7 linked regions of the Homo sapiens genome follow. The protein of the gene in region 7 purifies or fractionates together with the protein of the main gene of each other region. This does not show direct contact. Each region holds a gene or a part of one and is shown on either strand. Other genes may lie near its edges. The genes, in order: ACOT9, PBX3, CCDC85C, PRPSAP1, DUSP3, MEIS1 and DNAAF8.

Evidence for each region.
Region 1: the proteins of DNAAF8 (region 7) and ACOT9 purify together in Homo sapiens (affinity purification with mass spectrometry; 2 studies listed by BioGRID and IntAct, with this or other methods). This does not show direct contact.
Region 2: the proteins of DNAAF8 (region 7) and PBX3 purify together in Homo sapiens (affinity purification with mass spectrometry; 2 studies listed by BioGRID and IntAct, with this or other methods). This does not show direct contact.
Region 3: the proteins of DNAAF8 (region 7) and CCDC85C purify together in Homo sapiens (affinity purification with mass spectrometry; 2 studies listed by BioGRID and IntAct, with this or other methods). This does not show direct contact.
Region 4: the proteins of DNAAF8 (region 7) and PRPSAP1 purify together in Homo sapiens (affinity purification with mass spectrometry; 2 studies listed by BioGRID and IntAct, with this or other methods). This does not show direct contact.
Region 5: the proteins of DNAAF8 (region 7) and DUSP3 purify together in Homo sapiens (affinity purification with mass spectrometry; 2 studies listed by BioGRID and IntAct, with this or other methods). This does not show direct contact.
Region 6: the proteins of DNAAF8 (region 7) and MEIS1 purify together in Homo sapiens (affinity purification with mass spectrometry; 2 studies listed by BioGRID and IntAct, with this or other methods). This does not show direct contact.

The regions. Positions count from the first base shown.
Region 1 is NC_000023.11:23,736,325-23,740,446, forward strand, and holds part of ACOT9 (acyl-coenzyme A thioesterase 9, mitochondrial isoform a precursor), read right to left. Parts: intron 1-4,122. UniProt on the Homo sapiens protein: Mitochondrial acyl-CoA thioesterase. Catalyzes the hydrolysis of acyl-CoAs into free fatty acids and coenzyme A (CoA), regulating their respective intracellular levels. Regulates both mitochondrial lipid and amino acid metabolism.
Region 2 is NC_000009.12:125,914,267-125,918,388, reverse strand, and holds part of PBX3 (pre-B-cell leukemia transcription factor 3), read right to left. Parts: intron 2,704-4,122; coding exon 2,462-2,703; intron 1-2,461. UniProt on the Homo sapiens protein: Transcriptional activator that binds the sequence 5'-ATCAATCAA-3'.
Region 3 is NC_000014.9:99,520,185-99,524,306, reverse strand, and holds part of CCDC85C (coiled-coil domain-containing protein 85C), read left to right. Parts: intron 1-2,066; coding exon 2,067-2,174; intron 2,175-4,122. UniProt on the Homo sapiens protein: May play a role in cell-cell adhesion and epithelium development through its interaction with proteins of the beta-catenin family. May play an important role in cortical development, especially in the maintenance of radial glia.
Region 4 is NC_000017.11:76,322,414-76,326,535, forward strand, and holds part of PRPSAP1 (phosphoribosyl pyrophosphate synthase-associated protein 1), read right to left. Parts: intron 1,887-4,122; exon of another isoform or gene 1,783-1,886; intron 1-1,782. UniProt on the Homo sapiens protein: Seems to play a negative regulatory role in 5-phosphoribose 1-diphosphate synthesis.
Region 5 is NC_000017.11:43,765,282-43,769,256, reverse strand, and holds the end of DUSP3 (dual specificity protein phosphatase 3), read left to right. Parts: 3' UTR 1-3,132; downstream 3,133-3,975. UniProt on the Homo sapiens protein: Shows activity both for tyrosine-protein phosphate and serine-protein phosphate, but displays a strong preference toward phosphotyrosines. Specifically dephosphorylates and inactivates ERK1 and ERK2.
Region 6 is NC_000002.12:66,511,513-66,515,634, forward strand, and holds part of MEIS1 (homeobox protein Meis1), read left to right. Parts: intron 1-636; coding exon 637-782; intron 783-4,122. UniProt on the Homo sapiens protein: Acts as a transcriptional regulator of PAX6. Acts as a transcriptional activator of PF4 in complex with PBX1 or PBX2. Required for hematopoiesis, megakaryocyte lineage development and vascular patterning.
Region 7 is NC_000016.10:4,740,769-4,744,890, reverse strand, and holds part of DNAAF8 (dynein axonemal assembly factor 8), read right to left. Parts: intron 1,849-4,122; coding exon 1,731-1,848; intron 647-1,730; exon of another isoform or gene 22-646; coding exon 1-21. UniProt on the Homo sapiens protein: In cyliated cells, dynein axonemal particle-specific protein required for deployment of ODA to the axoneme. Interacts with outer dynein arm (ODA) subunits.

The sequences.
Region 1 (4,122 bases), on a different chromosome or scaffold from region 7:
CATAATCGATTTAGTAAACAACTGAGCAAACTCATTATGAACAATTTATTCTGTTCTTTATTATCGCACCATATTTCCTCAATAAATAAGATAAACCCAATTATAAAGTAAACTTTGAAAATTGAATTAGCCCTTTCCAGATGCAAAGAAAGTATTTATTTAACTTACGCAGAAATTTTCTAGAGTCCCAACACAATAAAATAAAAGCTATCTACTGGCCACGGTGGCACAGGCCTGTAATCCCAGCACTTTGGGAGGCTGAGGCAGGTAGACAGGTTGAGCCCAGGAGTTCAAGACCAGCCTGGGCAACATGGCAAAACCCCATCTCTACAAAAAATACAAAAATTAGCCGGGCGTGGTGGCATGCACCTGTGGTCCCAGCTACTCAAGAGGCTCAGATGGGAGGATCACTTGAACCCAGGAGGTCGAGGCTGCAGTGAGCCAAGATTGTACCACTGCACTCCAGCCTAGGCAACAGAGTGAGACCCTGCTTCAAAAAAATAAAAAATAAAAGCTGTCTACCTAAATGTGCCTAACCTACTCTCCCAAAATAAGTTGATTTTGGTTCATTATTGCTTAAGCATTGACTCCTAATCACACAATATTATGTCAGGGGTAGCACACAGGCAATATCACAGATTAATAAACTGATCTGTGAGAGCACAGTTGAAGAAGGCAAGGCACTGAATAGGTTAAGAACCCCGCAGGCCAGGCGTGGTGGCTCATGCCTGTAATCCCAGCACTTTGAGAAGCCAAGGCAGGTGGATCACTTGAGGTCAGGAGTTCGAGACCAGCCTGGCCAACATGGTGAAACACTGTCTGTACTAAAAATCCAAAAATTAGCCGGGTGTGGTGGCAGGCACCTGTAATCCCAGCTACTTGTGAGGCTGAGGCAGGAGAATCGCTTGAACCCAGGAGATGGAGGTTGCAGTGAGCCGAGAACACACCACTATACTCCAGCCTGGGCAACAGAGCAAGACTCTGTCTCAAAACAAAAACAAAAATAAAACAAACAAACAAAAAAAACCCAGAACCCCAGATACTGTCACTCATTCCAGTTCAATTTACTAGTAAATTCTCACCACCTAATGTGGGAATAAGCAATGACTAACAACAAAAAAAAGAGATATTTTTAGTTTTCTTTACAGACCAAGCTACTATAGGTTTCTCTTCTGAATGACAGCATTCAGAGAAAGCCTCTCAGTATTTACAGTATTCTGTAAAATCTACATGCAGTTTTGACACTGTGCTGTTAGAACAAATCCTTATCCTTTCACCAAGTCAAATCATCTAATTGCACAGAACACAGAAATATGAGCACATACTCATTGGCTAATTGAACTTCTTAGTCACCAGTCATCTTATTTGGTTGCAATACAATCCCTGCTGGTCCACTAAGACCAAAATTCTTGCTGGAGGGTTTGGGGTTTTGGATCTGTTTATTCTTCAATCACACAGCTAACAAGCCTCTCTCTTAAATATTTTAGCTTCACTTTTTCACGATAAATATTCAATTCCTGTACTTTCGTATACAGATTAATATTTGTCTTTTTTTTTTTTTTTAGACAGAGTCTCGCTCTGTCGCCCAGGCTGGAGTGCAGTGGTGCGATCTCGGCTCACTGCAAGCTCTGCCTCCCGGGTTCACGCCATTCTCCTGCCTCAACCTCCCGAGTAGCTGGGACTACAGGCGCCGCCACCGCGCCCGGCTAATTTTTTGTATTTTTAGTAGAGACGGGGTTTCATCATGTTAGCCAGGATGGTCTCAAACTCCTGACCCTGTGATCTGCCCACCTTGGCCTCCCAAAGTGCTGGGATTACAGGCATGAGCCACCGCACCTGGCCGTCTTTTTGTTTTTGACCATCTAATCTGCATTTTCTCAGAACGTGATTTGAATTTTCCATTTTTTTCATTATTTTGTTTTATGTATCTTCTATAGGTTCATATGCCTTACTGAAGGAAACAGAGTAAGTATTCCTTCATTCTTCCATCTCAGAAACAAGCAGCCAGGCATGGTGGCTCATGCCTGTAATCCTAACACTTTGGGAGGCTGAGGTGGGTAGATCACCTGAGGTCAGGAGTCCGAGACCAGCCTGGCCAACATGGTGAAACCCTATCTCTATTAAAAACATAAAAATTAACCAGGCATGGTGGCGCACACCTGTAGTCCCAGCTACTCTGGAGGCTGAGGCAGAATCACTTGAACCCAGGAGGCAGAGGTTGCAGTGAGCTGAAATGGCCCCATTGCATTCCAGCCTGAGCAACAGAGCAAGACTCCATCTCAAAAAAGAAACTAGCATTCTACAACTGAATATATCTGGTTTTAAAGAACACACTGGAAAAAGCTAATCCTTTCTATTGCTACCATTAGCTGAAAGAGCAAAAAAATCATGACCCCCAACACATTAATAGGAACTATAATAGACACGTTAAATGTATCCAACATAAGAAATGGGATCTGATTCTGAATGGCTAAATACCCTGAATACGCATCACTAACAGGAGCTATATAACCAGTCTCACATACCTGAATAAATACACATATACACAGAAATTGTTTTGTTACACTAAGAAGCAGCATTTTCTGAAGAGGGATGAAAATCATTCCATCCTGTTTGTGTGAGAGGCAATACAGTATAGGGGTTAACCCAAAGGCTGGGCGCAGTGGCTCATGCCTGTAATGCCAACACTTTGGGAGGCCGAGGCAGGCGTATCACTTGAGGTTAGGAGTTTGAGACCAGCCTGGCCAATATGGTGAAACCCCGTCTCTACTAAAAATATGAAAATTAGCTGGGCATGCTGGCGGGCACCTGCAGTCCCAGCTACTCGGGAGTCTGAGGCAGGAGTATTGCTTCAACCCAGGAGGCGGAAGCTGCGGTGAGCCGAGATCGTGCCACTGCACAGCGAGACTCTGTCTCAAAAAAAAAAGAGCCCAATCATGCTGCTTGTTAGCTGAGTTACCTTAGACAAGTTACCTAACCTCCCTGATCCTCAGTTTCCTCATCTGTAAAATGGGGATAATAATACTACCTATCCCATAGGATTGTCAAAAGGATAAAGGAATTAACACATATTAAACCCTGAAGGGCACGTCTAGAAGAGCATGTCTAATATACTGACAAGTCCTCAAAAATCTCTAGCTATCATTATTCCAGAAAGTCATGCTTCTCCAAAGTCTCCCCTAAAGATCAAAAAGAACCAGGCTGGGCACAATGGCTCACGCCTGTAATCCCAGCACTTTGAGAGGCCAACGCGGGAGGATCACTTGAGACCAGTGTGGGCAACATAGGGAGATCCCGTTTCTACAAAAAAATTTTAAAATATTAGTCAGGCGTAGTGGTGCACACTTGTGGTCACAGCTACTCAGGAGGCTGAGGTGGGAGGATCACTTGAGCCCCGGGGAGGTCGAGGCTGCAGTGAGCCATGATCGCACCACTGCACTCCAGCCTGGGTAAAAGAGCAAGACTCTGTCTCCAAAAAAAAAGGAAAGATAGCCTAAGCCAGGCACTATCACGGACCACTGCCAAACATAGAATCAAATGAGGAGAGAAAAGAAGGGAGTTAATGAATACAGAGAAACACTTGGGCCAATTTATTTGGAAAATTGTAGTCCTAGAGCCCCATTGCTTTGCATGCTGCCTTAAAAAATTTGGAAATACATTCCTGTGGCACAACAAAGGCATAATTGGAACACTTTTTAAAAAAATGTTGCTTATACCAATAGCATATTGGTAATAATAAATCTATATCATACTGTCAACATAGCATTCAAGAGTATTCGGGTAATGGTAACTTTTTTTTTTTTTGAGACAGTCTCACTGTCACCCAGGCTGGAGTGCAGTGGCAACATCTTGGCTCACTGCAACCTCCACCTCCCGAGTTCAAGCGATTCTCCAGCCTCAGCCTCCCGAGCAGCTGGGATTACAGCTGTGCACCACCATGCCCAGCTAGTTTTTGTGTTTTTAGTACAGACAGGGCTTCACCATGTTGACCAGGCTGGTTTTGAACTCCTGACCTCAAGTGATCTGCCCGCCTCAGTATCCCAAAGTGCTGGGATTATAGGCGTGAGCCACCGCGCCTGGCATGTAATGGTAACTTTTCACTACATTTGGTATCCTATTTAC
Region 2 (4,122 bases), on a different chromosome or scaffold from region 7:
ACAAAACAATAAAAAAAAACCCTGGTGATTTGATGCTGGTATAAGCTGGGGCTAAAGTTACATAAAATCTCATGGAAAATTTTGTAGGATATTTCTAAAACAGTGAGACTCAGGACCTTGTCATTGACTGACACCAGCTTCACACAACTTCCACCAGAGTGTATGGAGAAAGTAAGGAGGCAGGTGTAAAGACACATGGCAAGAGGTAGTAAGGAATCACCTTAATTCCTCAGCCAAAAAACTCAGGCCATTTGGCCTCTAATATTATATCTCTTTCCATGCAAGGTGACTGGTAGTGTTTATCTAGTAAGTAGTTATAGTTATTTTAGCATAAAGTTATACAATTAGGATTATACTACAAATAAGAGTCATTTTCTACTGTTTATGCTCAGGGGCAACCTTTTCAACCATGACTTATTTTGTTTACTCTCAATTATTCATATGTCAAATCAGAAAGTGGGATTTTTACATACATACACACGATAATTTTTCCAAAATTCTTATTTGTACATTTTCCACAAGAAGTTATTCTTACAAATGAGACTAGACATACAATTTTAGATCTCAGAAAATCCTATTCCAAAAATAGAAAACACCTTATAATATTAATTTACACTACTTTTTAACTTAAAGCTATACAAATTTTTCTACTCTTCCTCAAAACACACTCACCTCTGGGATAGGATTCAGCATTTGCTTAATACCATTGTATCCAGAATATTAGAAAAGGCAATGTGAAAAAACAACGATATATATAATTGAAACTATACAGGGAATGTAGAGGGGAAAAAATCAGTATTAAAACTGATCAGGGGTTGCCAGGGATCAGTGGGAAGGAAAGAATAAAAGAAGAGAGGGATGAATAGCACAGAGGATCTTTAGGGCAGTGAAAATACTCTGCATGACCCTATAATGATGGGTACATGCCATCATAAATTTATCCAAATCCATAGAGTGCACAATACCAAGAGTGAACCCTAATGTAAACTATGGATTTTGGGTGATAATGATGTGTCAATGTAGGTTAATCAATTTTAACAAATGAACCCCTCTGGTGGGGGATGCTGATAATGGGAGAGACTATGCATGTGTGGGGACAGGAGGTATATGTGATATCTCTCTTCTTTCCTCTCAAATTGGTCTGTGAACTTAAAACTCCTCTTTAAAAGAGTCTTTAAAATACACACAAACACACACAAAACTCACCAGGACTCCCATTTCACACTAAAGTGTGTGGACTTTAAAAAGTACTTGCCTACATAGTGAAATACTCATGGGTGAAATTATAGGATGTCTAAGACTTGCTTTAAAATACTCTTACCAAATTGGGGCTGGGTACACAAAATAAGAGTGGCAAAATGTTGATAACTGTTTATCTGGGTAAAAAGTATCTAGCTGATTCTGATTCCTTATTTGGGGTTGAACTCTATGAAATTACCATATTCAACTGTTTTTGGCCTCAAAACTTAGCAATTTCATAGGGTTCAATCTAATACTATTCTCATTATTTTTGTGTACATGTATTATAAAATGTTTCATAATACGTTTTTAAAATTACCTTCCAAATGACAAATCTTATCAAATGAGAATTCCTCAAACTTGGCAGCTTTTCAGCATTAAACTAACAACTAAAATATATGTAAAAAGACCCACCAATATTTTACTTTATTACATTAAATCTAAGACTCTCTTGTTTTTCTCCACATTTTAACATCTCTGAAATGTGAAAGCATTTTATAATCAGTAATATTTTATAGTTAAACTAGCAGTATTAATTTTTTCTTGGTGTTACATAAAGATGCAACTTAAAGTTATCTGAGATTCAGTATGGTTAATATAATTGCTGAGAACCAGATTTTTAACCCATATTCTCTTTCTAATAAGGAATTTAGCACATAATGCCTTGCCTAGCATTCCCTGTCCTGGGGTACCCATAATTATCTTGGGAGGTCTCATACTCAGAGAAACAGGCCGGAACCTGCTTACTTGGTGAAGTTCCCTATAGTCTGGCACAATCCATAAGAATTAATTCCCAGGAGGATTCTGGAGCTCACAGCATAGGAGGGAAAAGCTCACTGTGCAATGCTTCCCTTCAAAAGTGATTAAAGCTTATGAACAAGGCTAGTGCATAAATGTTAATTATACAGAGCTTTGAAGAGCACCAAGTGGTGAGGTGAGAGGGAAGAATGACTGCAGGTGTGGTAATAAGGGCACGTGAATGTGCGGAATGAATAAAACTAAAACAAGTAGATGGGATAAAATAGGTAGCGCTCCTCCTCCAAAATCTCAAAGGGTCTTCCTTTCATGAATCCAACAATTCACTTGGATTTTTGCACTGACCTTATTTATTTTGTAATTTGTGTTAACACCTACCCCTCACAGCCCTCAGAATTGGTTAGCATGGTCTAATAGAAGAGCAACAGAGGGTTTGTGTAGGACTATGAGAGTGGCGGCTGCTGACCTGTTCATATTTCTCCAGTTCTGTGTGATAGATTTGTCTGATCTGGGTCAATTTGGCTCTGTAATCTGAGTGTTCAATAGAGTTATCTGAAGAACCTCCAGAGGCTGCCGCGGCTGCAGCTGCTGCCGCCGATCCCCCACCTTTCTCAGGACCTGAAACCCCTTCTGCCAAAAGCATATTGTCCAGTCTCATTAGCTGGGGATCGGGAGGGTCCTCCTCCTGGGCTCCTCTGATGCTGAGACCTTCAAGGAAAGAGAGAGAGAGACAGAGAGAGAAGAAGCGAGAAACAGAGGACAAATAGTGTGAGTATTTTGTTTATTCGAGAAAATGATCAAACAACATCAGTGTACTACAATTCATGCTGAGAACTTCATTGTTCACATTTGATCGGTAAGTTTGAATAAGTATGAAAATTATTTTTAAGATAGTGTTTACATGCACCCTAGAATTTTAAATACCCCCCCACCGCCTCAATTTACCACAGACTAGATCCTTAGAAAAAGGTAACCCTGGCTTCCTGGAATATTTTAATCATTCAAGCTTCCCAGATTTAGATAATTTAAGCATAAAATGGGAAGAGGGTAAAAAATTGAATGTTTTAAGAAAGAAAGAAAATAATTACAGGGATATAAAACAACTCATCCAAAGGTGGTTATTCTGTCTCTCTCTGTACAGTTGGAGAAACAGAATTAAAATTCCCATAAAATAGTTAATTCACAAGCTGTAATCAAAAATTGAAAAATAAACAACATTAGATGAGCTTTTCCATCGTGTGATTTCAGAAGAGGAATACACACATTATGAGGTAACTGGCTATACTTAAATATATATATATTATTAAATGAATATTGTTAAGCAATTGCCAGCAAACTATAAAACGAGGATACTAAATACAGTATTAAAAATGTGCCATTGACATGGCAATACAGTGCTGGGCACAGTAGTCTCAATCTAATTTTGCTTTTAAATCAAGAACTTCCTAAGTGATGCCCAGTCAGCAACCTCTTCTGAGTACTATAGATCATAGCTGACAATTCATAGGTTTAATCAGGTCACACAGGCTTTCTGCCAAAATGTTTTCAACAACACAGAAGACAAAGTTTTAAAATAATTATCATGGTATAAAAAGCATTGGAGTCATGACAGCTCAAAATCAGCATTTTCATTAATGTGTAACATAATCTAAAACATCCCAGCCCAATTAACCTCTGTAAATCTGCTTCAAAGCAGGTTCCCTACACTAGTTACAAGGCTTCTTGGGGAAGAGGGGAAAAGGAAGTTGGCACCTTGCTTGTTTGTATTTGGATTCTCTTTTGAGTCTGTGCCTGTTGTTGTTTATCCACAGTGGTACACACTTTGTGTCTAGTGTAACTTACATGACATAACATCTATAAGCTGCCAAGTACTCAACTGATCACCAACTCTGATTTTATATGCTAACCTAAAGCTACCGTCAATTCTTTTAAGAACAGATTTCATTCCTAGATGCCCTGAATTACATCCATGGCATGACAGAGCTCTTGGTTGCCTTAACACAAATGCAAAACTTTAATTTCTTCCCCAAAACACTTTAAAGCTGTCACTTTCATTTAAAATTATACTTCAGAATAATTTCAACTGGATAATAAAACTAACTCACCATAATTTAAAATTTTATCTGT
Region 3 (4,122 bases), on a different chromosome or scaffold from region 7:
GCAGGGCCGGCTGAAGGGGAGGGCAGCTGTTCCAATCCCAGGTGTACCCTTCCTGGCTGTGTGGCCCAGTAGTCAGACTGTGTGTATGTGCACGCACGCATTCAGAGTGTGTGCTGGCTTAGAATGCATTCTCCATTGGAGAAGATTTTGTAACTCTCTTACTGTTGCAGAGTCCTGGCCAAGAAAATCAGGTGGTTTGGAATTTTCGCCCTTAAGTGGAGCTAGGGGTACATCTCTCAGGAGAGGTGACCCAGAGAGGCATGGGTGGCTCTGATGGGGTGGGGGGAGGGGTGTCACTCATGGTTGGGGGAGGGTGAGTGCTGGGCCTAGGGGTGGGGGCTGTAGCCTCTTCCTCTTTTTGGTACCTGGTGGGTGGGGAGGGGGCTTTCCTTGATCTGACCTCCACCTGCGGGCCGTGAGTGCCTCTAGTTAACCTAGGCAGGGTCAGCCAGGGTTAATGCCGTGGTCAGGGCATGGCAGTCCCATTTGATGGTTCAGGGCTGTGCCCAAGGCCCCCGTGCTGAGACCCCTTTGTGATGCTCGCCAGGGTTATCTAAAACCCATCACACTTTGGGGGCCCTGCAGGAAGGTTGGTTCCCACTTCTCTGTCTCTCCTTTATGTCCCTCCCTGACCTTGGACCACACCCAGGTCCTCCCTGAGGCCCAGGAAGCAGCTCCCAGCCTCCAGTGCCCGGCTGCCCTGGCTGACCGGCGTCTGGTGGGCGTGGGCTATTTAATGAGGGGAGTCAGTGCCGGATCCCTGCTTTCCTGTCTTGGCTCCGTGGGAGCTGGTAATAGAGCATCCACTTGCCTCCTCACCCCCGCAGGACACGGCTGTTTGCTGGCCCTTGAGCCAAGCTCTTGAGACCTCCCAGCCCCAGTGGGGGGCCTGGCCAGGGCTCTGATGGGGCTGGGAGAACACAAGAGCTGGACCTCAGTGAGGCTGGGGCTTGTGAGAAGTGCGGGGCCAGGTCCAGCTTTTGAGGGAGGCAAGCAGGGTGTGTGTGGGATCTTTCACAGCCAGGCCGAGGGGCTGGTGAGTGGAACTGGGACCCCAGACATGGCTGCAGCCTGTCCTGCCTTCCTTGCCCCTGCCCCAGCCCAGCCCCAGCCTGGGCCTCCCCTGCCCCTGCAGTTTGTTTGGGTAACTCAACAGCCTGCTGATTTATGGGACATTCCGCAGGGTTTTATCTGCCCAGCCACTTTCTCTCAGTTCCTTTGAAGTAGAAAAGGGTGTTTCGGCCAGAAACACCCAAAACCCTTTAGTGATGCAGAAAGAAAAGAAAGGCCGGGCCTTCTGCTGGGCCGGGCCAGGGGAGGGGCACTGTGGGACTGACCAGAGAAGTTTATGGGACCTGTGGATTCATTCTGGCTCCTGGTCCCAGCCCCAGCCCCAAATTCTGGGGGTCGGTGGTGTTTGCTTTGCTCTTAAGCAAAGGGTCTAAGGCCAAGCCTTCCTCCCTCCCTCCTGTGTGCAGGAGTTAGTTACAACCCCACAGCTTGCACGAGTTCTCAGGGATTCAGAGGCAGCACCCAGGACCTGCTTTAGGAGCTCCCTGCCCATCCGATGGGGGAGGCAGCCTGGGCGGAGCATCCCGAGAGAGCCCCGAACCCGTGGGAGGTGGGAGGCCTCGCCTGTGGATGTGGCCCCATCTGCTGCCGATGGCTGGCCCAGGCCCTGTGAGTGGTGCCGTCTGTGCAGGGACCCAAGGGCAGGAAGTTGGAGCGGAGGAGCCAGGGTGAGTCACGGGGTGGGAGAGACACTCTCTCCTCACTCGCTCTCACTGGCTCTTCTTCATTCATTCATTCATTCTGTTTATTCAGCCATCCAACAAATGTTTACAAAGCCCACGTTGGAGAGTGGATCGCTGACATTTGAGCTGGGGAGAGTGAAGATCGATTGATCCCGGCTCGGGGGATGGATAAGCGGTGTGGAGGGGAGGGTGGAGGGGTCCTCCGGGGCCGTGCCTTTGAGCAGCCCCTGCTGCCGTGAGGAGCCATGCCCAGGGCCCTTGTCCTCCTCAGCCTGGCCCTCCGTCTAACCCCTCTCCTTCTCTCCCCTGCAGCAGGCAGGCTCCGGAGAGTTCCGCACGCTGCGGAAAGGCTTCTCGCCCTACCACTCGGAGTCCCAGCTTGCGTCCCTGCCGCCCTCCTACCAGGACTCCCTGCAGAACGTGAGTGTGCACCCCAAAAAAGCCCACATGTTCTGGATGAGGGGCTGAGGCTCAGGCGGGCCAGTGACCTGCCCGGAGGGGCACAAGGATCTGGGTGCCTGAGTTCAGCCCCAGCCCTAGGCCCTGTGTCCGTGTCCCATCCAGTGTGGCAGTTAGAGGCGGAGCCCCAGGTGGGTTGACACTGCTGGAGGTGCGGGGCAGTCTCCAGAGGCCACGTGCGCAGGGCTGCCCGTGCCTAGCCCCTGTCCCTCTGAGCAGCTCATTAGCCTGTGCCACTCCTTGGCCACGGTGGGGAGAGGGTACCCGGCCAGCCCTGGAGCTTGGGGTTCAGGTTTGTGGATTCTGCACTGAAATGACCAGCCTGATGCCTCCAGGGGTATCCTCTGCCCCTACCTGGCTGACCTGGCCTGGAGGGAATGGGGTGGGCGGCTTGGAGCCAGCTCCCGGGAAGTGGAACCTAGCTCAGGACTGTGCCCTGTAGATAGATATGATGGCAGTGGGGAGCCACAGGAGTCCAGGCCCACTTGCCCTCCTAGGACTGGGGGCCTTGCCTTGTGGGACTTCACGCCTCCAGGAGCCTTGGTGGGTGTGTAGCGGATGCTTGGGAAGCATCGGCTGTTCTCGTTGCGGCACCTGCAGAGCCGTGTATGGAGGTGCTTCTTGGGCAGCACGTGCGCTTGTAGCAGCTGTGCCCCTTCCTGCTCTCTTCCCTGCACCCCTTGCCCACAAGGCTGACCCCAGGCCCCCGGTGCAGAGCTTGCTGGGCCTCAGTGCTGGCTGCTGGCTCTGCGATTTCTCTTTTGCTGCCCTTCCACCTTCTCCAGGAATGCAGCTGTAGAGCCTGTGCAGGCAGCAAAGCCCGCCAATGGCCGATATTCCAAGCATTTATCCGGAGTCCCGTGGCTGAACGAGGCTCTAACTGTTTCATGGTGGAGGGCTCTGAAAAGCCAAGGGATGCCCTCACGGGGCTGGCTCCTTAGTCTTCATGCCCCGTGCCTCTCATTCATTCAGATCGTGGGAGGGAGTAATAGCAGCTAGCAGTTACTCAGTGCTATGTCCTGAAGTCTTCCGCGTGGCCTGCAGGTTGGGAAGTGCTGTGCAAGCACAGCTCTCACATGTACCAGGCCCGCCAGATGCTGTCTCCCTGCAGGCCTCTGGAGAGCACACCTCAGGCATGGGCCGAGCCTCAAGGCCTGAGAGTGCGGATAAAATGCTGTCAGAGTTCAGGAATGTTCAGGAAGGCTTCCTGGAGGAGGCAGCCTTGGGAAAGGGTTTGTTCCTCTTGCCTCCTTTTTTCCTCTAGACTGCTCTGTGCATGAAGGGGTGTCCCCTACTTTGGAGAGGAGGAAGTGAGGCTCACAGGGGTGGGGTGGATGGCCAGGGCCCCATGGTGAGTGCGTCCTGGTGCCTGTGTGTGCCTAGAGGTCAGGGGCCAGCGTGGGGGCTGTGCAGGGGTCGCTCCTCCATGAGGCCAGGAGGCCGGGTGATAAACTGAGGTTCAGGGGCCATGATCAGGGCTGGTCGGCGGGCAGGCCCCCAGGAGTGGGATGAACTGAGGTGCAGGGGCCGTGATCGGGGCTGGTCGGCGGGCAGGCCCCCAGGAGTGGGATGAACTGAGGTGCAGGGGCCGTGATTGGGGCTGGTCGGCGGGCAGGCCCCCAGGAATGGGATGAACTGAGGTGCAGGGGCCGTGATCGGGGCTGGTCGGCGGGCAGGCCCCCAGGAGTGGGGGTTGAGGGGTCAAGGTATCTCGTGGGAGGGGCCGATGAAGCCTGGAGAAGTGGCTGCTGTGGAGGGGCCAGGGCCAGAGGCCCTTGCTGGGGCCTGGAGAGCCCATGTCTGGCACTTGGACCCCCGGGGAGAGTGAGGGGGTTATCCAGAGAGGGCCGTCTCCGGGCTCAGACACTGCCTGGCACACAGGCCCTTCCAGACCCAGGCAAGTCTCCTT
Region 4 (4,122 bases), on a different chromosome or scaffold from region 7:
AACAACAGTCTTTCGACAGCTCTGATGGAGATACACAAGGAGATTAGTGATGTTTTCATGCCCGCTAATACAACATCCATTCTGCAGCCCATTGAACAAGGAGTAATTTCAACTTCCAAGTCTTATTATTAAGAGTAATAACAATAAGGTGATCCTCCCACCTCACCCTCCCAAACTGTCAAGAATACAGGCTGAGGCGGGAGGATTACTTGAGCCAATGAATTTGATACCAGCCTGGACAACAAGACAAGACCCTGTCTCTACTAAAAATTTCTAAAAATTAGCTGGGTGCTTGGGCACAGTGGCTCATACCTCTAATCCTAGCACTTCGGGAGGCCAAGATGGGTTGACTGCTTGAGCCCAGGAGTTCATGACCAGCCTGGGCAACATGGCAAAACTCCGTCTCCACAAAAAATACAAAAATTAGTCAGGTGTGGTGGCACGTACCTGTGGTCCCAGCTTCCAAGCTACTCAGGAGGCTGAGGTGGGAGGATCACCTGAGCCCAGGTGGTAGAGGCTGCAGTGAGCAGTGATCGCACCACTGCACTGCAGGTCTGGGTGAGAGAGGGAGATCCTGTCACTGTACTCCAGCCTGGACAGCAGACAGAGACCCCGCCTCTAAAATAAAATAAAAAGAAATACATTTGGCTGGGCGTGGTGGCTCACACCTATAATCCCAGCACTTTGGGAGGCTGAAGCACGCAGATCACCTGAGGTCAGGAGTTTGAGATCAGCCTGGCCAACATGGTGAAACCCTGTCTCTATTAAAAATACAAAAATTAGCTGGGCGTGGTGGTGCACACCTGCAATCCCAGAAACTCGAGAGAATGAGGCACGAGAATCACCTGAACCTGGAAAGCAGAGGTTGCACTGAGCCGAGATTGCGCCACTGCACTCCAGCCTGGGTGACAGAGCAAGACTCTGTATCAAAAAAAAAAAAGAAATACATTTTATAAGACTATAGATGCCATAGATAGTGATTCCTCTGAAGGACCCAAAGTAAACTGAAAATCTCTGGAAAGGATGCACCATTCTAGATGCCATGAAGAACACGCGTGATTCATGGGAGGAGGCCAAAATATCAACATTAACAGGAGTTTGGAAGAAGTTGATTCTAACCCTCATGGATGACTCTGAGGAGTTCAGGGCCTCCATGGTAGAAGTAACTGCAGATGTGGTGGAAAGAGCAAAAGAACTAGAATTAGAACTGGAACCTGAAGCTGTGACTGGGCTGCTTCAATCTTATGATAAAACTGTAATGGATAAGGAGTTGCTTTGATAGATAAGCAAAGAAGGTTTTTTGTTTTTTTTTTTGAGATGAATCTACTGCTGAAGATGCTGTGAACTCTGCTGAAATGAAAACAAGGATTTAGAAGTATTACAAAAATTATTTGATAACACAGTGGCAGGGTTTGAGAACAGTGACTACAATTTTGAAAGTAGTTCTTTCGGCTGGGCGCAGTGGCTCACGCCTGTAATCCCAGCACTTTTGGAGGCCGAGGCGGGCAGATCACCTGAGGTCAGGAGTTCGAGACCAGCGTGGCTGACATGGTAAAACCCTGTCTCTACTAATAATACAAAAATTAGGCGGGTGTGGTGGCACACATCTGTAATCCCAGCTACTCGGGAAGCTGAGGCAGAATTGCTTGGACCCAGGAGGCAGAAGTTGCAGGGAGCCGAGATGGTGCCACTGCACTCCAGCCTGGGCAACAGAGTGAGACTGTCTCAAAAAAAAAAAAAAAGAAAGTAGTTCTTTCTTCTAGGTAAAATGCTATCAAACAGATCATTTTGTAGTTCATAAGTGTGATCATTGGGTGTTCACGCTTACATGTGAGATGTGCCATCCTTGAACCTTGTTAGAACATCAGTACATCACCTGGCTGACATTTTAAAAAATGCTGTCAGCCGGGCGCAGTGGCTCACGCCTGTAATCCCAGCACTTTGGGAGGCTAAGGCGGGTGGATCATCTGAGGTCAGGAGTTCCAGACCAGCCTGACCAACATGGTGAAACCCTGTCTCTACTAAATACAAAAAAAATTAGCCAGGTGTGGTGATGCATACCTATAATCCCAGCTACTTAGGGAGGCCGAGGCAGGAGAATCACTTAAATCCAGGAGGTGGAAGTTGCAGTGAGCCAAGACTGCACCACTGCACTCCAGCCTGGGCAACAAGAGCGAAAACTCCATCTCAAAAAAAAAAAAGCTATAAAACAGCATTACATGCTACAGAAAGATCTTTTGTGAAAGGAAGAGTCAATCAACGAGGCAAACTTCGTTGTTTTAAGAAATTGCCACAGCTGAGCACAATCACTCTTGCCTGTAATCCCAGCTACTCAGGAGGCTGAGGTATAAAAATTGCCTGAGGCTGGCAGGGTGCAGTGGCTCACTCCTGTAATCCCAGCACTTTGGGAGGCCAAGGCGGGCGGATCATGAGGTCAGGAGATCGAGACCATCCTGGCTAACATGGTGAAACCCCATCTCTACTAAAAATACAAAAAAAAAAAAATTAGCCAGGTGTGGTGGCAGGCACCTGTAGTCCCAGCTACTTGGGAGGCTGCGGCAGGAGAATGGTGTGAACCTGGGGGGTGGAGCTTGCAGTGAACTGGGTGAACCACTGCACTCCAGCCTGGACGACAGAGAGAGACTCGTCTCAAAACAAAAAAAAAAAAAAGAAAAGAAAAATTGCCTGAGGCCAGGAATTCAAGACCAACCTGGGTCCGGGCACAGTGGTTTACGCCTGTAATCCCAGCACTTTGGGAAGCCGAGGCGGGCGGATCATGAGGTCAGGAGATGGAGACCATCCTGGCTAACTCGGTGAAATGCCGTCTCTACTAAAAATACAAAAAATTACCCGGGCGTGGTAGCGGGTGCCTGTAGTCCCAGCTATTCGGGAGGCTGAGGCAGGAGAATGGCGTGAACCCGGGAGGCGGAGCTTGCAGTGAGCTGAGATCGCGCCACTGCACTCCAGCCTGGGCGACAGAGCGAGGAGACTCAGTCTCAAAAAAAAAAAAAAAAAAAAAAAAAAGACCAACCTGGGAAACAGACCCCATCTCTTAAAAAAAAGAAAGAAAAGAAATTTCCACAGCCCATCCCAACTTTCAACAACCACCACCCTGATCAGTCAGCAGCCATCAACATCGAGGCAAGACCCTCCACCAACAAGATGGAGGCTCAGATGACTGCTAATTTTTTTTTTTTTTTTTTGAGACAGAGTCTCGCTCTGTCACCCAGGCTGGAGTGCAGTGGCGCGATTTCAGCTCACTGTAAGCTCCACCTCCATTCTCCTGCCTCCATGCCATTCTCCTGCCTCAGCCACCCGGTAGCTGGGACTACAGGCGCCCGCCACTACGCCCGGCTAATTTTTTGCATTTTTTTAGTAGAGACGCGATTTCACAGTGTTAGTCAGGACGGTCTCGATCTCCTGACCTCGTGATCTGCCCGCCTCAGCCTCCCAAAGTGCTGGGATTACAGGCCTGAGCCATTGCGCCTGGCCAACTGCTAGTATTTTTTAGCAGTAAAGTATTTTTAAATTAAGGTACGTACATTGGTTTTTAGACACAATGATATTGAGCATTTAACAGACTACAGTATAAACATAACTTTTACATGTGCTGGGACATCAAAAAATTCATGAGACTCACTTTATTATAATATTCACCTACTGCAATGGTGCAGAACTGAACCTGCAATATTTAAGGTATTCCTGTGACGACAATGAATTATAACCCACTGAATGAAATAGGCCTATGAATCCATACTGATATAAATGAAGAAATGAATAGGGAAGAAGAGAAAGCTTTCTTGCATTAGAAGGTCAACTAATAAATGTAGAAGGAATGATAGAGTTAGAAAAATGAACACTGACAACAATCACAGTCAATAATTGATTCAGGCAAGAATCATCAGTAGATGTTCATTTTGATGAGAAGCAGAATATTTACAGTTAAAACATAGTCTTAACATGAGGTAGTATTAATTACAAAGAGGAAAAAAAAAAGAGTAACTTTACAGTGGAGAAACCTGCCAGAGAAACCTTAACCAACTTATCAGAATGCACATCACCAGTAATGGGACACATCATGTGTTTCCTGTGATTTTCTGCCAAAAATGCATAACCTGAATC
Region 5 (3,975 bases), on a different chromosome or scaffold from region 7:
TCATGACCTCCCTTCCCCAACTCCCGAATCCTCTCTTGAGTGTGGACCTCAACACCTTGAGCCCTAGTAAAGGAACTATGCAAATGCAGGCCACTCTCCCCACCACGTCTGTGCCCTGCACTGTCCCCACAGCCTTCCACACCCTGTGCATAGGCAGCCCTCTCACGTCTTGAGGTCCGAAGCTGGGGTGGGGGTGTCCGTCAGTTATTAGTGGATGGAGATTCCCACAGCAAGGCTGCATTTGAATGATTTCCTTAGGATGAATGGTCCCTACACAAAGAGGCCTTGTGGGCAAACCTGGAGAACCCTCCTAAATCCATAGAGTTTTCAAAATGTGAATCTTTGGAAGCCTTGAGTTCAGAATCTGCTGCTCTGGAATATTTCCCTTCGATCTTATCTCAGTCACTTCGTTTTTGAGAAGAGTGATGCCTTGGGCATGCTTTTTTTTTTTTCTTTTTTAGAAAACAGGGAGTTGAAGTCCAACCTATTTAAAAACCCCACCATTTGGAGAATTACAAGGGTTTTGTCCTGAATTGTAGTGTTGGCAAGCCCAAGCCACTCGTGCTAACTGCTTTTTGTCTCGGTTGCTATTCCAAGAACAGAAGGAGGAAGTTGGCCAATTACAGCGTGTGTGCATGGATGTGTGTGGGGGGCGTGCCTCTCAGAAACGCGGCCAGAAGACAAGCAGGGAAGTGAAAGGTCCCAGGCACACACCCTGCCCATTGCAGGTGGCTCTTACAGCTCTCTGGTGCCAGCACGGGATCCCTGAAGTGACTCAGCCAGGCAGACATGAGACATGGCGGAGTGTCCAAATGGATCCTTTATTGGTGGTAGAGCAAAAAAACCCAAACACGATAAACCTTTCAAAAGACTTTCTAAGGATGATATTGGAATGCACCAGCCCTCACATGTGTATGCACATTTGCCAGAATATAAGAGTTTTGTTTTAAATACAGTCTTGTTAGGATTTTACGTTATTGTTATTATGGAAAGTGATTGTGATGCTATTTATCTTCAGGGTCACTCTGGGCAAAGAGAAGGTCCTCAGCCATGCCCCCAGCACCTTGCACATAGGTGTCTGATAAAAGTTTAAGAAAGTAAACACTTTTTGAGCACCAAATATATATAGGGCATTGTTCTGGTGGGTGTGTCACGCTCCCAGAAGACTGAATTCATGGTAGGATCACTCGCAAGGCCTTGTGAAGGAGTCTTACCTAAAACGAAAGAAATATCAGGGACTTTTGTTGACTATTTACAACTCAGTTTTACATTTAAATTCAGGCAGTGTTAATATGCCAAGGTAGGGAATGTGCCTTTTTCAGAGTTGGCCAGGAGCTCCTGGCTGGGACACGGAGAGGCAGGTGTGGCGTAAGGCCTCACTCCCGGCTGGGAAGGTCTCTGATCACACAGAAGCAGCCCTGCCCAGCCTGGTCATTTGCTGTCCGCTTTTCTCTGTGACCACAGCAGCCCTGAACAACCAGTATGTGTCTTCTTCTCCAGATAGTGAAAAAGGTGTCCAGATAAACCCACCTAAGTGAAATGGCCATCCTCTAAACTGGGTACCTCACTGCACAGCTTCTAGGTAGCCTTCCAACTTAATCTAACTTGAGCCTCACAGTAACCCTGTAAAGTTAGTAGAGCTTGTTCTTGTATTGTGACCTTTTTTAAAAAAAAGGAACTGAGGTTCAGAATGATTAAGGGCCTGGCCCCCAGGGTTGTCCAGCTCCATAAGGTGGAGCTGGGCAAGATTTTGGGTTTGCTGCTCCCTGAAGCTGGATTCTTTCATACGATACTCTTTCTCAAGAAGGGGGCTCCCTGGGATCTCCAGGTGTACTGCACTTACCCTCAATCCAGCCCCGGAGAAGCAAGTGAAAAGGGTGGGTCCCTCATAGGCTAGAATGTGCAGCTCTTTCTCCAGGTGGGATGTAGCACCCCGAAGTAGAGCTTTCTGCTCTGCTCCTGGAAAAGGCTAGGGAGCTGGGGCTGGGGCTCCCCTCCCATGACCAGGCAGTGGTCACCCCATGGGACAGGCACAGCTACTTACGCGAACACAGCAGGTTGGTGTGGCTGGCTAACTAGGACCTCTCGAAAGTCTCTGTGGGGGCATGAGGGAGAAAAGGCCATTGGGAGAATTACTGCCTTTACTTTGGGACTACTTTTATGCTGATAACTTGGGATTTCTTGATAGTCCTTCACCCCTGAAACCCCGTATTTACTTAACAAGATTTAGCTCTTAGTTCTTCAAGTAAAATTAAAGTCTCTTGTGTAAGAGCCAACACATGCCCAGCTGCGGATGGGAGCTGTTCCTGGACAGCCTTCTACTGCCTGGGAAGTGATGGAACAGGAACTCAGGGTGCCCTTACCCCCTCCCCAGACCTGTTCCCTTTCTTTGACTGACAGAGCACCATCCAGGCAAAATTAGAGCGCCAAATGGTTTTCTTCTCAATCTTAAAGCAGTATACCTTTCCACAGGCTCGTCTGTGTCCCTGCCACTCTGAGTTATCCAGAAACCACCACCTACAAATGAGGGGACTCATCTAGAAGACCTCTAAGGTCCCCTTTTGGCTCTGAGGGGTCTCTAATAATCCCCACTTGGAATTCAGCACCGCAAGGAAATTATGGGTATGTGAGCCATAATATGATGGGCAGCAGGTGGCGCTGCCTTCCACCCATGGTGATGGATGGTTTGGAAAGGGAATGTTGGTGCCTTTTGTGCCACAAGTTAAGATGCTACTGTTTTAAAGGAAAAAAAAAAAAAAAAGTACTGATCTTCAATATGAAGACATGAGCTTTTCTCGCAGGAAATTTTCTTTTTCACAGAACTGGTGTCAGGAATCACTGAAGGGCTAACCGTGATAGTCCTTGCAAGTAAGTCAAGGTTTTATCCTGATTGGAAATAGAAGACATTTCCGGTTGAGAGAACAGATTCGTTGGAAGCTTAACTTTTGTTGCCTCTTAACGCCACCAAATTTTAGGGTAATTTGATTATGAAAGAGTGAATTTTTCTGGACAGAAAAGGGAGAGCTACCAAATTGTTTTTTTCTTTTTAAAAGGAAGTTTAATGTCCGTTGTATCACAAATCAGTGTTAAAACACCAGAACTTTAGCCAAAATAAATGTCTTACATTACAAAGGTATTGTTTTTTTGTCCTTCTTATCACAGTTGGTATTCTTTTACGTTTTTATGCTTAGCTTTTTTTGTTTGGGCTTAGCTTTTATATTTGCGATTTCTAACTTTTTAAAAATAATCATCTAAAACATAGCCGTTCTGAGCTAGTTATAGGTTCCATGATGGCACTGTTTATGCAGTAGATATTGATGAACACCTTTCCAGTACCAGAAATGTTCTGGTAGGAATATTCTTAGGTAGAATGGCCATAATGGTCCTGAATGAAGGAGGTAAGGTTTGTGCTTCTAAGAAAGCAGGGGACTAGGGTGTTCATCTCAAGGTAGCCTCACGTGATGACTGGGTGACATTTTGAGATTTGAGTGATCCTGCAAATGAACAGTCCCTAAACATATCCCCTTCCCCCAGATGCCTTAAATTCCACTATTGGTGCTATGTTCCTTTGAATAAAAAACCTTAGAGAAAGTAGTTGCCTTTTCCTCCCAGACAGAAGTCTGGGCAGAGAAAGCCTCTCGAGGTTCCCATTCCCTCTATCACATGAAGCAATTGGACTCGCTTCCTGTTTGTCAAGACTCTGACAATGTAATCTTTATGGTTCTACACAAAATCTTAAGGCAGAGCACTAAAATATAAAACAGGTAAAAGTTTTTAAGTATAATTTTTAAAAAATTTTTCATTAAAAATAATACTATATGTACATAGTAATACACTTAAACAATGCAAAAGGCTTATACGGAAAAGTGAGTCACTTGCTCCTTCAATCTGTCTCCCCATAAGCATCATATCCTTAAAGGAAAATGTCAAGCATATATAAGCACACATATGTGCATACGTGTGTATATACAGAGA
Region 6 (4,122 bases), on a different chromosome or scaffold from region 7:
ATTTACACAGTAATTGTTTTTTAATTAAGAAACTATGTCAGGGGTTTTTCCTTTACTAAACTTGATGCTTTCTCTCTATTACAAGAAAAATTATATTTTATTTGAAGCATTCCTATGTCAAACTGCTTATATGATGGATTACCTACATTTCCCCATCCTAGTTTAACTAGTCTTAAGATAGATCACTTGTGGAAATAGTTGATATCTTAAATGAATCTTCTCACAAGTCAATGTCAATGACTGTGGGATTTGAATGCCCAGGCAGCCATAGCGCCACAGCTAATGACTGCCACCATGTTTAACTCCCCGGTAGGAGTTACACTTAACCTGTCTCAGCTATACATATTGGAATAATTACCATAGCAACAAAGCCACAAGGGGATTGGATATTTCCCTCCATTCCCTTTGACTTTTGGCAATGTTCTTTGGAAGAAGTTCTTTAGACCTGACTGCTCTTGAGCCTAGGCCTTGTTCTTTCTCTGTCTTGGAAAACAAAACACAACAAAAAAACAGTACCAAAGAAACTATTAATCATTTAAATTTGCTCTTTTGGTTTTGTTTATATCCAAAGGCATTCTATTTGAATAAAGCATGTCAAGGTAGCATCAGTCAAAATTTGATTCGCTATGTTTGCAGGTGATGGCTTGGACAACAGTGTAGCTTCCCCCAGCACAGGTGACGATGATGACCCTGATAAGGACAAAAAGCGTCACAAAAAGCGTGGCATCTTTCCCAAAGTAGCCACAAATATCATGAGGGCGTGGCTGTTCCAGCATCTAACAGTAAGTGGATTCTAAATGACATATATAAACTAAATATGGACAATGAACCAGTTTTTATACAAAAAAATGAGAAAAAAGTGATCCCTCTGGACTTGAAATATTTAATAAATAACTGTGTTCCCACAGTTTTTGCAAAAGTATTAGCACTTATTTCTTAGATAGATACCCCAAATGAGAAATTTTATTTAAAATTCACGATTGCGATTTTGTTAACTTTCATAAGTTAAAAGATTTAGGTGTTCATGTGCACTTGTGATTTTAAGTATGTGTTTTAATGATGTTGCTTTTCTAAGTGTGACCCTTAAGTGCTCAGAACCATCTCCTACTAAGAAGAAAGTTAGACAAACCCTAGAGAGAGACTTAATATCTTCTGATGCTTTAGTGGATCTTTACAACAAATGGTCCACAAAAATTTAAATCATGTTGCAATGGCAAGATGATCACATAATTTGCTTTTAAGTGGTTTGAATGCACTGGCTTCCATTACAAAACATTCATGTAAGTCAGAGCTCCACAGTGAAAGTTGTCCCTGTATTTAGAACTGTAAAGGAAAACAGCAATATAGAGTCAGCTCTTCCTGTGTAGTCCCTTGTGACTTTTCAAGCAGAGTAACAGTTTATATTGTCTGTGCCAGTATTGCTGTTTTCACTGCAGGAATTCTCCTGGAGATGTGAGAAACTGGAGATTTGGGGCTTTATGCCACTGGGGGATTTGTTTTGTTTGGTTATTGTTCTGAATGAATTTCATGTTCAAAATATTTATAATAATAATATTTTGGTGGATATTTTTGTAAGTGCATACCAATTTAAAGAAGAAGATACAATGAAGATTTGTGGATAAAATAATATTTTAAAAATCAACAAAATTGTTGACCAGAGGAATTTCAATATTAGAGACAAAGGATGAATTTAGACAGGTTGTAGCAAAGTTACATAGATGGATAAATGTTAAAAACTCTTGAGGGTTGTTTTTTAATATCAGGAGAAAATATTTTGTGTTACTATTTTTGTCTTAGCTTGCTTTTCCTAAAGTCAATTTTTCCTTAAATATTAAAGTTAATCTTGCATTGTCATAAACACTTGCAGAGCCTGTTTACCTTCATACCTGGGCCCACATTCAAAGCCATGTTCCTCAGTGAGTTTTACGGGTACAGAGATACAAACTCAGGGGATGTCTGCAGGTCATGTTAGTTCTGCTCCTCTGGATAGAGGCTGTGCCTCTAATAATACTCAAGGGTATAAATTAATCCAGATTTTCCAGCATCAGTGAATAAGATAAAAGCTGAGAGCAGCAGGAATAGCTAAAAAAAAAAAAAAGTTTCCTCCCTTCTCTTCTTCCCATAATAATTCCAAACAGTATCTAGACTACACTACAGTTTTTGAGTAAACTTCAGGGCTTGGCTATGCTGGAAATTAGTTGGAGATTTAGATTATTTGAGCTGTTTTGATTTTAACATCATATTAGGTTTACCTAGAATCTGATTCAGGCACCACTACTTATCTGACACCTGTTGCATGTGTGTAGATATTTCAATATCTGACTCCTGCAAATTCCCCACTGAGGATTATCAATCACTAATGAACTAGGGGAAAGAGGACTCAGGTCTTGAGGGCATATCATGAAAAACGAATGATATGACATTTAGATAAGAAGTGGCAATTGGTCAAAGGTGTGGTACAATGATGCTGATGCAATGATGCTAATATTTTATCTCCAGAAATAACCAGCTAACTCGCTGTGTGGAATGAGTTGGTGTGGTGGATAAAATCAGGTTGGCCCTGAAGTCACAATCAAATAATTTCTATTTCCTATAGACTAACAGAAACAATGAATAGATTTCTTCAGCCCCCATCTCAATCTGCAAAGGAGTTTTGGCTTTACTTGAAGCTGAGGTGCCCCTGAATAAAATATAATCAAATATTGGTTCAGACAGAATCAGGAGAGAGAGAAGCAAGCTATTTTATGCAGCCACTAGTTTTCCTGTTTTTCTAGGTTGTACCCTTGTGAAGACCCTTGCATAGAGCTACATTATCTTCTTGAAACAAACAAACAAACAAAAAACCCAAATAAACTTTCTAACAGCCCGCATGATTTTACATGCATTGCATTGCTTATATGGACTATGTGTTTGTTACTGGGGCAATTGTAATCGAAATTATTCATGAACTGCCTGATTTCTTGAGACCTAAATAATAGTCTTCAGTTTTGAGGTCTTTGCTGGCCTGTGCCACTGCCCTGGAAGGGGAAGCCCATTCATCCATGTTTCCCCAGCTTTCTGTGAATGTTTATAGGTGTTACCTTGTGGTTTCCATTGGATATTTCTACCTCCATTACCCACTCCAATGCCATCTGCTCATACAGAAATATTGATTAATGATAATGGTCTGTAGATAGCTAATTGTTCTTATAACATCATCTGAAGAGCAAAGTTAAGAGATATGTTTAAATTTTTCATCTTTTCCTTCCCCCAATGAAAAAGATTCCTTCCCACTTCTCTAATTGCAAGAGCAAATAGACCTCCAGCTATAAGGAACACCCGTTACCCTTGTTTTGTAATCCTTCTTGAAGGAATGCATGGACTGCTTAGGTAATATTTATAGTAAGGAGCTAATTTTAATAAATTCTATTTTAAAAACCTATAGAATCTAAAGAGAGTTTTGTTGTTGTTTGTCTAAATGTAAGTAACCACTGACATCTCAGTACTAATTCTTTAGTGACTTTATTTCAAGTTCTGGGAGGTCTTCAGGGATGCACAATTCATTAGGAAGACTGTACAAATTTTAAATGGTCACGTCATTGCTATGTGATTAATGCAACTTATCTAGGAAATCCTTTCTGAATTCTTGCTAGATGTAAAAAAGCCATTGAAATTCTGGCTAATTAAAACAATAGCAATACCAATTTATTAGTAAACTGTAAACTAGTCTTTTTTTAAATGTCAAAAGACATATTCGAAAACCTCTCACACCTTTTAAAAGCAAATTGCTATTTCTTTTTAAAATAAATGGATCAATCCTTTCACTGGGTTTATTCAGTGAAAAAATCTGCCCTTGAAAAGGCTTTAAAGCATTTCTGTGTTAGAAGAGTAGAATAGGCCCTGAATTAAAAACCAAAACAAAACAAAAACCAACTTTCTGAATTTGTACCCCAGCTACATGAGAAGAAAAATGTGGCAGTCTGTAGTTATCCACAGGTAGACTTAATCAGTAGCACATTTTACTACTCCAAAGAGAGAACTAAAGCCTCACTCTTGGGCTCACAGTCTCTAGCAAGCTAAACTGGACATACTTGTATATAATGAAAATAATAAAAGAAAAAGGAAACGAGTTTTAAACTTTGG
Region 7 (4,122 bases):
GGGCGCTCGGCACCATGCGGTCTGAGGATGGCCAAAGGAGAGGCTGATTAGTGGGGACTTGGCCCACTTGTGACTTACAGCAGCTGGAGCCTCAGGACCCCTGGGGTCTCCACATGTGAATGGACCTCAGGCTCCTCCACTGCCCCCGCCCAGCCCTCTCCCTACTCAGCCCTCTGAGGACTCCACCTCTAGCTCAGCAGGGCTGAGGGGGGCAGAATCTTTATGAGCAGGGCCTGTGGCACAAGGGCTTGGTGAAGTAGGAGTGACGTATTTTTAAGTTTATCCCACTTCCTCACACCCCGGTCCCACTTGTCACAGGTGATCATAATGAACAGTTCTGTGTGTTGACTTAAAAAAAAAATAGGGTCATCCTCTATAGGTTTTTTTTCAACTTCACTTTTTTCACTTTGTATATTACATGCTTCCACGTTAACCTACGGAGATCCCCTCATCGAGCCGCAGTGTATTCTGTGCTAAAACGATCTAGCTGGACTCCTCCTGAATATGGGTTGTTTCCAGCTTTTCAGATTTTTAAACAACACTGCAGCAAACAGCTCTGAACACACATCTTTACCTACTAGAGTCAGAGTGTAAGACAGATTTTCTAATTGCAATAGCTTGATTAAAGGGTTATGTGCCTTTAAAACAGAGAATACATTCGGCCAAGCGCGGTGGCTCACGCCTGTAATCCCAGCACTTTGGGAGGCTGAGGCAGGCGGATCCTGAGGTCAGGAGTTCGAGACCAGCCTGGCTAACATGGTGAAATCCCGTTTCTACTAAAAATACAAAAAAAATTAGCCAGGCGTGGTGGCACGTGCCTGTAATCCCAGCAACTCAGGAGGCTGAGGCAGGAGAATCGCTTGAACCCGGGAGGTGGAGGTTGCAGTGAACCGAGATCGTGCCATTGCACTCCAGTTTGGGCAACAAGAGTGAAACTCTGTCTCAAAAAAAAAAAAAAAAAAAAAAAAGAATACATTCTGCCCTACTCCCCTCCACAAAGGGAGTGCCAGTTACACACACACATACACATGCACACACATGTCCTCCAGAATGGTTGGCTCTCTACCTCCTGCTTTATGGGATTTGAATTACAAACCAACAAAATGTATTTAACATAACACGGGCTGTCAGTCACAGGGGAGTCTTTGCTTTGGGACCAGAGGCGGAAGCGCCGCACCTGCCCTGGCTCCTCTGCCTCAGACCTGCCTCCCCTCGCCTTTGTGGCCCGAGTGGATAGGGAGGGGTTGGAGAACTTTCATTTTATTTGCAGGACTTCCCAGAGCAAAGCCATGAGTGTAGTGACAGTGGTGACATCCTTTGCCTCCCTTTTTAAATGGGGAGGCCAGGGGAAGCGGGAGCGTGCTTAGGAGCTGACTGCGCACAGAAGGTGGGGCTTCCTTCCCCCAGGAAGGAGGAGGAGGGAGAAGGAAGGCAGGCTGGCCCAGGGAGGTGGGGAAGAGGAGGTATGGGTCATGGGGTGGGGTGCGGAGGCCTCTCCTTTGTCCCTAGGACCTGGCCCACGCCTGGCACGTAGCAGGCGGTCACATATATGTTGAATGAATGAAGTCTTTTGGGGACTGGCAGCATGAGTGTTTAGGGCGGGGCCAGCAGGGAAGACTTGTGTGGGCTGCAGGACTGTCTGTGACCAGCCTGCAGCCCTCTGTGTCTGAGGGGCCCAGGAAGGTGCTGCTTGTGGGGATTCACGTGGGCTCCAGTGTTCAAGGTCAGACCTTGAACTTGGCGGTGGTCAGCTGCCCACCACACAGTTCCAGGTGCACGATTTCCCTGGTTGTCTTCTTGTCCCGCCAGACTCTGAAGGATGTCATCCAAATCCCACGCTTCAAGTTGCTGAAATCATTAAAACCAGTGATTATGAGGATGCTGAGGGGTCCCAGAGGCACAAGTACCTGCTTCACAGCTGCTGTGACCCATGGAGATGGTCACAGGATGTTGGGGGTAGAAATCAGGAATTCAGTGCATGACAGAGTTTGCAAATAGGCTGACCCCGCCTTTCCATTACAGATTGAACGCCTCCGTTAAGGTGGGCCTGCACTTTGCCACCTCCTTCCTATGCTTTCTTGGGGATCAGTACTTCACTTTTGTTTTTGGCACAAAGACGTTGTCTGACCCGAAGGAAACCCTGTATTGTTGTTTCATTTTGTTTTGTTTTTGAGACCGAGTCTCACTCTGTCGCTCAGGCTGGAGTGTAGTGGTGCGAGCTCAGCTCACTGCAACCTCCACCTCCCAGGTTCAAGTGATTCTCCTGCCTCAGCCTCCCAAGTAGCTGGAATTACAGGCATGCGCCACCACACCCTTCATTTTTTTTTTTTTTTTTTTTGTATTTTTAGTAGAGATGGGGTTTCACCATGTTGGCCAGGCTGGTCTCGAACAAACACCTGACCTCAGGTGATCCACCTGCCTCCACCTCCGCCTTCACCTCCCAAAGTGCTGAGACTACAGGTGTGAGCCACCACGCCCAGCCTAATTTTTGTGTTTTTAGTAGAGATGGGGTTTCACCATGTTGGCGAGGCTGGTCTTGAATGCCTGACCTCAAGCAATCCATCTGCCTGGGTCTCCCAAAATGTTGTGATTACAGGCATAAGCCACCGAGCCCAGCCAAACCCTGTGTTGTTTTCAGAAACACTATTTAGGTTCATACAGGTTCACAATGTTTGGAGGTTAAAAAATTTTGTTCTTTTAAGAATCAAGCTGTTCCAGGCAGGAGCTAAAACTGGAAGGCTTGGCAGTGAGTGCTTAGGGGCAGAGTGAGTCTGAGGAGGAGGGAGGAAATTAATCAAGAATTCATGTTTATCATATGACCTTTCAACTCTTTGCAGCCCTCTAAGTGGAGAAAAATAAGTTTTTAGGTGAGCAGAAAGAACGGTTGATTTAAACAGTAGTAAAGATGACTTCTGTGTATACCTGGTGCCAGTTTTCTCTAACCTGTTAAGAAAAATTATCCAAAATGTGTAAAACCGAGACGGTGTGATGGTTACTTTTCTGTCCAGTAGACAAGATAACTCCTCTAGGACATGAATGTGACAAGCGTATCTCTGCATTCCTCTCTTTTTCCCCAGTGTTTTACAAAATCCCAATTTCTTTTTTTTTGAGATGGAGTCTCGCTCTGTCACCCAAACTGGAGTGCAGGGGCGTGATCCCCATCTCCTGGGTTCAAGCGATTCTCCTGCCTCAGCCTCCCAAATAGTGGGACTACAGGCGCGCACCACCACACTTGGCTAATTTTTGTATTGTTAATAGAGTCACGGTTTCACCATGTTGGCCAGGCTGCTCTCGAACTCCTGACCTCAGATTTTCCTCCTGCCTTGGCTTCCCAAAGTGCTGGGATTACAAGCGTGAGCCATCACACCTGGCCAAAATCCCAGTTTCTTATGATCTCATTAAACCGGCACTGTCATCCTGCTGGTTCCCTCATTAATGCACTAAATACAACTTTTTAACAGGTGCTCACTAGTTTATGAGAATGAGGGCTTTCATATTTTGAGATCAGGCTTTGACAGAACCAGGTTCTATATTTTAGATATGGCTATATGTATTTATGAACATCCTCGGGAGTGGAATTCCTTTTTTCTCTCTCTTTTTAAATTTATACATTCTTTCTTTCTTTGTTTCTTTCTTTCTTTCTTTTTTTTTTTTTTTGAGATGGAGTCTCGCTCTGTCACCCAGGCTGGAGTGTAGTGGTGCGATATCGGCTCACTGCAAGCTCCGCCTCCCAGGTTCACGCCATTCTCCTGCCTCAGCCTCCTGAGTAGCTGGGACTACAGGCGCCCGCCACCACACCCAGCTAATTATTTTTTTTTTTTTTGTATTTTTAGTAGAGATGGGGTTTCACCGTGTTAGCCAGGATGATTTCTTTTTTTTTTAGAGATGAGGGTCTCACTGTGTTGACCAGGATGGTCTTGAACTCCGGGGCTCCCGCCTCGGCCTCCCAAAGTGCTGGGATTACAGGTGCGAGCCGCTGTGCCTGGCCTCCTTTTCTCTCTTTAAGGAAGGCAGGCCCTGCTTGTTCTTTGTTCTTGTTAACCCTCCCCCAGGATGTGCTCTGCTGGGACCCTCCACCCCTCTACTGAGACAGGTACACAGAATGGTGGATAATGGGCCTAA